Homo sapiens: one gene and its partner. The protein of the gene in region 1 interacts with the protein of each later gene in a pairwise test. Each region holds a gene or a part of one and is shown in the gene's direction. Other genes may lie near its edges.

What was found. Proteins that work in one complex are often made in the same cells at the same time.
Region 2: the proteins of WWP2 (region 1) and ADARB1 interact in binary tests that used the Homo sapiens proteins (3 or more experiments, as listed by UniProt).

The regions. Positions count from the first base shown.
Region 1 is NC_000016.10:69,936,712-69,940,360, forward strand, and holds part of WWP2 (NEDD4-like E3 ubiquitin-protein ligase WWP2), read left to right. Parts: intron 1-406; coding exon 407-527; intron 528-836; coding exon 837-941; intron 942-2,315; coding exon 2,316-2,412; intron 2,413-2,629; coding exon 2,630-2,702; intron 2,703-3,129; coding exon 3,130-3,229; 3' UTR 3,230-3,649. UniProt on the Homo sapiens protein: E3 ubiquitin-protein ligase which accepts ubiquitin from an E2 ubiquitin-conjugating enzyme in the form of a thioester and then directly transfers the ubiquitin to targeted substrates.
Region 2 is NC_000021.9:45,182,510-45,186,158, forward strand, and holds part of ADARB1 (double-stranded RNA-specific editase 1), read left to right. Parts: intron 1-75; coding exon 76-244; intron 245-852; coding exon 853-1,001; intron 1,002-1,964; coding exon of another isoform or gene 1,965-2,084; intron 2,085-2,413; coding exon 2,414-2,582; intron 2,583-3,649. UniProt on the Homo sapiens protein: Catalyzes the hydrolytic deamination of adenosine to inosine in double-stranded RNA (dsRNA) referred to as A-to-I RNA editing.

The DNA.
Region 1 (3,649 bases):
GTGGCATCAAGCTGAGACATCTGCATCTTTCTCCGGGCCGAAAGGATCTCTGTGGCCTGTGTGCCTAGACCCACCGTCTCACGTGTGCCCGTTCTCCGTGCCTGTTCCTCAGGCCTCTTGCTTTAGTCTTTATCTCCACGCTTCCATACGTCTGAGGTTCAGTCGGCGCTGGGGGCAGGAGCAGGAGGAGGTGGTGGTGAGGATGATTTCAAAGACTCCGGTGTCTGCAGGTCACTGTGAGGTTTTCAGGGCCTCACTCTAGGTCCTCCAGCAGGCTGGGTCTGGGTGTGCGAAGTGGGCTCTGCTGATCTGGTGGTCCTGCGCGGTAACGGCCACGCGGCCTGGCCGGGAGCCACCCCTGAGCAGTGGGTCTCAGACTCCACCCATGGCTGCTCTTTGGTCTCAGGCTGCTGACTGACTGGCGTTTCACCCGAGGCGTGGAAGAGCAGACCAAAGCCTTCCTGGATGGCTTCAACGAGGTGGCCCCGCTGGAGTGGCTGCGCTACTTTGACGAGAAAGAGCTGGAGGTGAGTGTCTGAGGTTGCTGGGACCCTGAGCCCCTGCCTCTGGGGCGATCCTGCTCTGTGATACGCTCACTGTGTACCCACAGACACTCAGCGTAAAACTCCCACTTCGGCAGGGCAGATGGGTTTGATTTGGGACCCACCCTTCCCCAGACACTTGTTTCAAGAAAGCAGGGACTTACATTACCCATATTATTAACGCTGACACCAAAAATAGCTAGTTGAATATGTTTGGGGTAATGTCAAGTGCTAGCGAGTGGACGATGCGCGGGGAGGGACCTGCCGGGGATGCTGACTGCCGCCTCTCCCCAGCTGATGCTGTGCGGCATGCAGGAGATAGACATGAGCGACTGGCAGAAGAGCACCATCTACCGGCACTACACCAAGAACAGCAAGCAGATCCAGTGGTTCTGGCAGGTGGGTCCCGGGCCCAGGCCTTGGCAGGGACATTTGGGCCATCAACCAAAGGAAACGGGTCCTGAGGAGGCCTCACGCGCAAGGACCTTCAGCTTTGGCCCTGTCCTTGCCTCCCACACCTTGCAAAAGGAGACGATAGACCAGCCTTGGGATGAACGGGGACAGTTCCAGCTGAGTGGTGGCCAGTGGATGTGACAGGAGGTCGTCAGTGGTCAGCCTTGGGCCAGCTGGTGTGCAGGGACAGACCTGCAGGCAGACAGCAGCTGCCACTGGTTGAGAGGTCCCCTGCCAGCCAGATGGGACAGGAAGGCAGGGGCTTGGCTCCAGAAACCAGAAAGAGCTGTCATCCTATGTATAATTAATGTGTTGATTCTTTTATACGTATGGGTTTTGTTGTTGTCGTTATGAAATACAGCATACAAAAAAAAATAGCGATTACAGGTATTCTTAGTACATGTCTGTGTGCATATGTACGTATACAAATTTTTTGTGGAGGTGAAATTTGTATAACATACAATTAACTATTAATTTTTTTTTTTTCAATAGAGACAGGGTCTTGCTATGGTGCCCAGCCTGGTCCTGAACTCCTGGGCTCAAGCAGTCCTTCCATCTCACCCTCCCAAAGTGCTGGGATTACAGGCGTGAGCCACTGTGCCCAACCCATTTAAGTTTTTTAAGATACACAATTCAGTGGCTTTCCACTTTGGGTTCCTTGGCTTCCCACCCAGGCCGAGGTGGGCAGATCACTTGAGGTCAGGAGTTCAAGACCAGCCTGGCCAAAATAGTGAAACCCTCTTTCTACTAACAATATAAAAAATTAGCCAGGCATGGTGGTGGACACCTGTAATCCCAGCTACTCGGGAAGCTGATGCATGAGAATCACTTGAACCTGGGAGGTGGAGACTGCAGTGAGCTGGACCGTGCCACTGCTCTGCAGTGAGCTGGACCGTGCCACTGCACTCCAGCCTGGGCGACAGAGCAGTGGCTTCCAGTACATTCACAGTGTTGTGCACCTGGCACCACTATCTAATTCTGGAACATTTCATCTCCCCAAAAACCTTATACCCATTAAGCAGTCACTCCCATATTTAGTCATCTCTAAAAGCAGAACGTGGATGGGAAGAGAATACCCAGCCTGAGGTGTCCCTGAGACCCAGAGATGTCCCATGGACTGGTGGGAATCTCATGCACACACAGCCTCTTAGCAAAAGCACTTCTGGGGTTTCTCAGGTTGGAGGCTGTCATCCCCTGGCCAACCTGGCTTTGTGTTCTCAGCCCCAAAGAGGGGCCCCGCTGAGCTAGAGAGCTCCACGTTCGGGCAAAGTACTGGGCCCCGTGGGTTGCCTGACTGTGCCTTGACTTGCGGACTTCCAGGTGGTGAAGGAGATGGACAACGAGAAGAGGATCCGGCTGCTGCAGTTTGTCACCGGTACCTGCCGCCTGCCCGTCGGGGGATTTGCCGAACTCATCGGTATGTTTTCTCTCGCCCTCTGGCGTCCTGGCTGGCAGTGCGGACAGCTCAGAGGGAGGGGGAAACCTAGTCTCTTCCTGGAAGCACGTCAGTGGGATGGAGAAGAGCTGTGGCCTCTGCATCCTGGGGCCGAGCCCATCTGTGGGTGGAGCCGGAGGATCCTGCTTTGGGAAGGGACGTCTCTGCTGACGTCGGCGTGTTTTACCTTGGATCACAGGTAGCAACGGACCACAGAAGTTTTGCATTGACAAAGTTGGCAAGGAAACCTGGCTGCCCAGAAGCCACACCTGGTGAGCCTGCTGGTTTTAGTGGGAGGTCGGGGGGCCTCAGACCCGATGAGCTCCTGGGACAGCCCAGTGGGTGTAGCAGCTTCATAGCCTCGAGTCTGGCAGCTTTTGCGTGGCCCTGGGGTGTTGGGTTGGAGAGATGGGGCTGTGATGGGCATCTGATCTACCGGGTTTTACATATGAAGCACTTCTGTTCCAGTAGTCCAAGAGCTACTGCCCCAAGTGTCCCCCGCAACCAATTTCCAGCTGTCCTGGCCCCTCCCTTAACACCCCATGGTCCAGGCACCTGCAATGTGAAGGCCTGACTGGCAGCCCCTGAGCCCTAGCCAGTGTGGTGCAAGCCCTGTGGCCCTGCTGCAGGCAGGCATGGTGGGGCTATCAGAGCCCTGGCCTCCTAGGGCTGACTGTCGTGCTTCCCCACTCTCAATAGCTTCAACCGTCTGGATCTTCCACCCTACAAGAGCTACGAACAGCTGAGAGAGAAGCTGCTGTATGCCATTGAGGAGACCGAGGGCTTTGGACAGGAGTAACCGAGGCCGCCCCTCCCACGCCCCCCAGCGCACATGTAGTCCTGAGTCCTCCCTGCCTGAGAGGCCACTGGCCCCGCAGCCCTTGGGAGGCCCCCGTGGATGTGGCCCTGTGTGGGACCACACTGTCATCTCGCTGCTGGCAGAAAAGCCTGATCCCAGGAGGCCCTGCAGTTCCCCCGACCCGCGGATGGCAGTCTGGAATAAAGCCCCCTAGTTGCCTTTGGCCCCACCTTTGCAAAGTTCCAGAGGGCTGACCCTCTCTGCAAAACTCTCCCCTGTCCTCTAGACCCCACCCTGGGTGTATGTGAGTGTGCAAGGGAAGGTGTTGCATCCCCAGGGGCTGCCGCAGAGGCCGGAGACCTCCTGGACTAGTTCGGCGAGGAGACTGGCCACTGGGGGTGGCTGTTCGGGACTGAGAGC
Region 2 (3,649 bases), on another chromosome or scaffold:
TCAGACTTCAGGAGCACAGTTAGGCAAACATTACTGTGAATTACAGAAAATAGTGTCTCTTTTTTTTTTTTTCAGGCACAGATGTTAAAGATGCCAAGGTGATAAGTGTTTCTACAGGAACAAAATGTATTAATGGTGAATACATGAGTGATCGTGGCCTTGCATTAAATGACTGCCATGCAGAAATAATATCTCGGAGATCCTTGCTCAGATTTCTTTATACACAACTTGAGCTTTACTTAAAGTAAGTTTAGTAAACAAATAAGGACAGGAAGCTCTTTTTAAAAAATATTCCTCTATTAGAAAACATTGCAAAACCTTTCATTGTTTCTGTAATCATGGAAAATCTCTCAAAATCATAACTTTAATTAGTAACAATAAGGCTGCATCCCATTCTTCCACAATGCTCAACACACATATGCACACATACATACAATAACATAACATGGTCATAAATTTCAAGTCTGTGTTTAAGACCATGTGATTTTGTTGTATGCTGTATAAATAGAAGTTCCCAAACTGCCAGGTAAAGATGGTAATTTTTATTCTAGTCACCGTTTCTAGAAAGAGCTAGTCATGTATCCAAACTCCTTTTCTTTACAAAGCCATTTTTTGTATGTGGTCTTTCTGTTCTGAAGTCATAAATTGGAAGAAGGAAAGGTTACTCACATCCTGATGACATATCCATTATTGAGTGACAAGAACTGTATTAATTACCCTAAACATGTAAAATAAATATTCCAGTTCAAACTTATCTTTCCCTTGTGGAAAATACTAGCCTCTGAAAATGATAGACTAAAATTTAACTATATACAGCTTTAAATGTTACTTTTGCAACTTTTTTCCTTTCAGTAACAAAGATGATCAAAAAAGATCCATCTTTCAGAAATCAGAGCGAGGGGGGTTTAGGCTGAAGGAGAATGTCCAGTTTCATCTGTACATCAGCACCTCTCCCTGTGGAGATGCCAGAATCTTCTCACCACATGAGCCAATCCTGGAAGGTATGAGACGAGATTCTTCAACAAGCCAGTTTCTCAAGAAAATGTTAACAGATAAAAACTAACCTGTGTTAATATCCCTTTTCCTTTTTTTCTTTTTATTTTTAGACTTGGATGTGGATCTGATAAGAGTCTCTATAAAAGCATGGATTTTTTTCTTTCCAATTAACTTAATTAGAAAACTTTAATGAATGAAAAATGCTGATTGTAATTAACCAAGTAATTAGAATGGAGTGAGAATATTGGATTAAAATTGTATCAGTATTTAAATTTGGGTAATAAATATCTCTAAATCAGAGGTGTATGTGATCCTCCATATTTCTGAGGAATTCTAATTTGCTAAATGTGTAATTAAAGTATTTATTTGCCTGATATTTCAGAAGCAGATAAACACTAGTGAAAAGTGAAACCACTATTGTGATCATATTTTTTTCCATCCTTCTTTACATTTGAGGTTAGCACTTTTGTTTTTTAGTGTTTTGTATCTACATCCCTTCTCCCAAGCCCTTAGGCATTGTTTATTCCAAATAGAACGTTTTATTACATTACTTTCCTTGTTTATAAAAGCAACAGGCATACTCACTGTGGAAAATTGCTAACTATTTTTAAAATATAAGAACATTAAAATCATCCGTATTCCTGTAACCCAGAAATACTCACTATGGATGTTTTACCATACTTTCCATGGGTTTATTTCTGCATCTGTCTAGATTTATTTTGGAAATTTTAAAAATATAGAGGAAAATAACATGGCAAACACCCAAGTATCCATCACCCAGAATTAGCAAATGTTAGCATTTTGTCCTATTTGCTTCAGTGCATTTTTAATGATAGAAATAAATCATTTCAGTTAAAGTGAAAACCCCATTTCCCCAACTCCCTTGGAGACCACTTTTGTGAATTTTGTTTGTGTTATGTCCTTCCTACTCAATTTCATATAATTTTTTTTTTTTTTTTTTGAGACAGGGTCTCGCTCTTACACCCAGGCTGGAGTGCAGTGGTGCAATCATGGCTCACTGCAGCCTCGACCTCCTGGGCTCTTAAGCGATCCTTCCACCTCAACCTTCCAAGGAGCTGGGACTACAGGCATGTACCACTATACCTGGCTAATTTTTATATTTTTTATAGAGATGGGGTTTCACCATGTTGCCCAGGCTGGTCTTAAACTCCTGGGCTCAAGCGATCCACCTGCCTCAGCCTCCCAAAGTGCTGAGATTACAGGTGTGAGCCACCATACCCAGCCTCTCAGCTTCACATACTTATTTTGTATGTGTATTTTGTATGTATGGCATAAACATATGCATTTATATGCACAGACTGTATTTTAAATTTATAAGCTATTGTTAGATGTGCTTTTCAATAAATCAAATAGATGGTTTACTACCTGTGGGGTTTTAACTCTTTTTCTCTCTTAGAACCAGCAGATAGACACCCAAATCGTAAAGCAAGAGGACAGCTACGGACCAAAATAGAGTCTGGTGAGGGGACGATTCCAGTGCGCTCCAATGCGAGCATCCAAACGTGGGACGGGGTGCTGCAAGGGGAGCGGCTGCTCACCATGTCCTGCAGTGACAAGATTGCACGGTAAGGGGCGGGGGCTCCCTGTGGCCACCTCCCTGCACACAGGATTCATCCATACTGTTTGCCAACCTCCCTTTTCCACAACCATTTGAATTTTGGCCCCATTTCCCACTCAGGTGTTCCACAGTATTCTTTGAAGGACTGAGGTTCTAAACAGGTGCTGCTGGGACCCCCGTGAGGGGCAGCAGCAGGACCTAGACACAGGAGGCTCCACGCTTCTAACATTCCTATCCAAGCGTCTCAGAGTTTACCACTTATTTTTAACGTGGGCTTCTGGGTTAAACTGATGTTTTTAATGGGCTACAGGCCATGACATCTTAAAACTACTGGCTTCTCCTCATTAGTAGTAGATGCAACTTCAGTGGTCACTTTCATCATTCAGTTAACATTTTAGGTAGTTGATATGTGCATTTTAAAAGTAATGCAAACCCTGTCACAGGCATTGTGTTCTAAGCACAGAGAGCATCCCCAGCCATTCTGTGCCTGGGTGTGGGTTAGGCTTAGAGGAGGGCTCTGCAAGCACACTTCTGTAGTCAGCAGGCACCTGGGAGATATTCATCTTTCAGAGGCCTGTATCCAGAGCAGATTATAGAAAACCCATTTCTTCAGATGGTATCAGTTCCAGTAGTTCTTTGTTTTCATTTTTAAACTAATGTTTATTTGGAAAAAAAAAGTAACATAAGCAGATGGCAAAAAGCATACAATGATAAAGTTTAAAACCTCCCTCTTCAGAGCCCTCCTGTGGCACCCACAGTGAGTGGGTTTTGACTGTCCATCCAGAAGCTGTCAAAATTGATGCATACGCATGTGCACGTGCACATCTTTTCATTGTTTGTGTGCCCTTTATGTTGATTTCCTTCAGTGGGTCTTGTCAGGCAACCTCAAGTACAGGGAGCTGGATTAATCACACATTTTGGGCCATTGCCCACAGCCCAGGTGACCACTGTGATGTGTTTATTTATTATTTGTCCTTCCAGTCCACCTCCACACGTGCATATGTCAACTTTGTGTGTGTGTGATGTGGGGGAGGGGGGTGTACTCTTGAAAAATACACAATAGAATTATTTGGA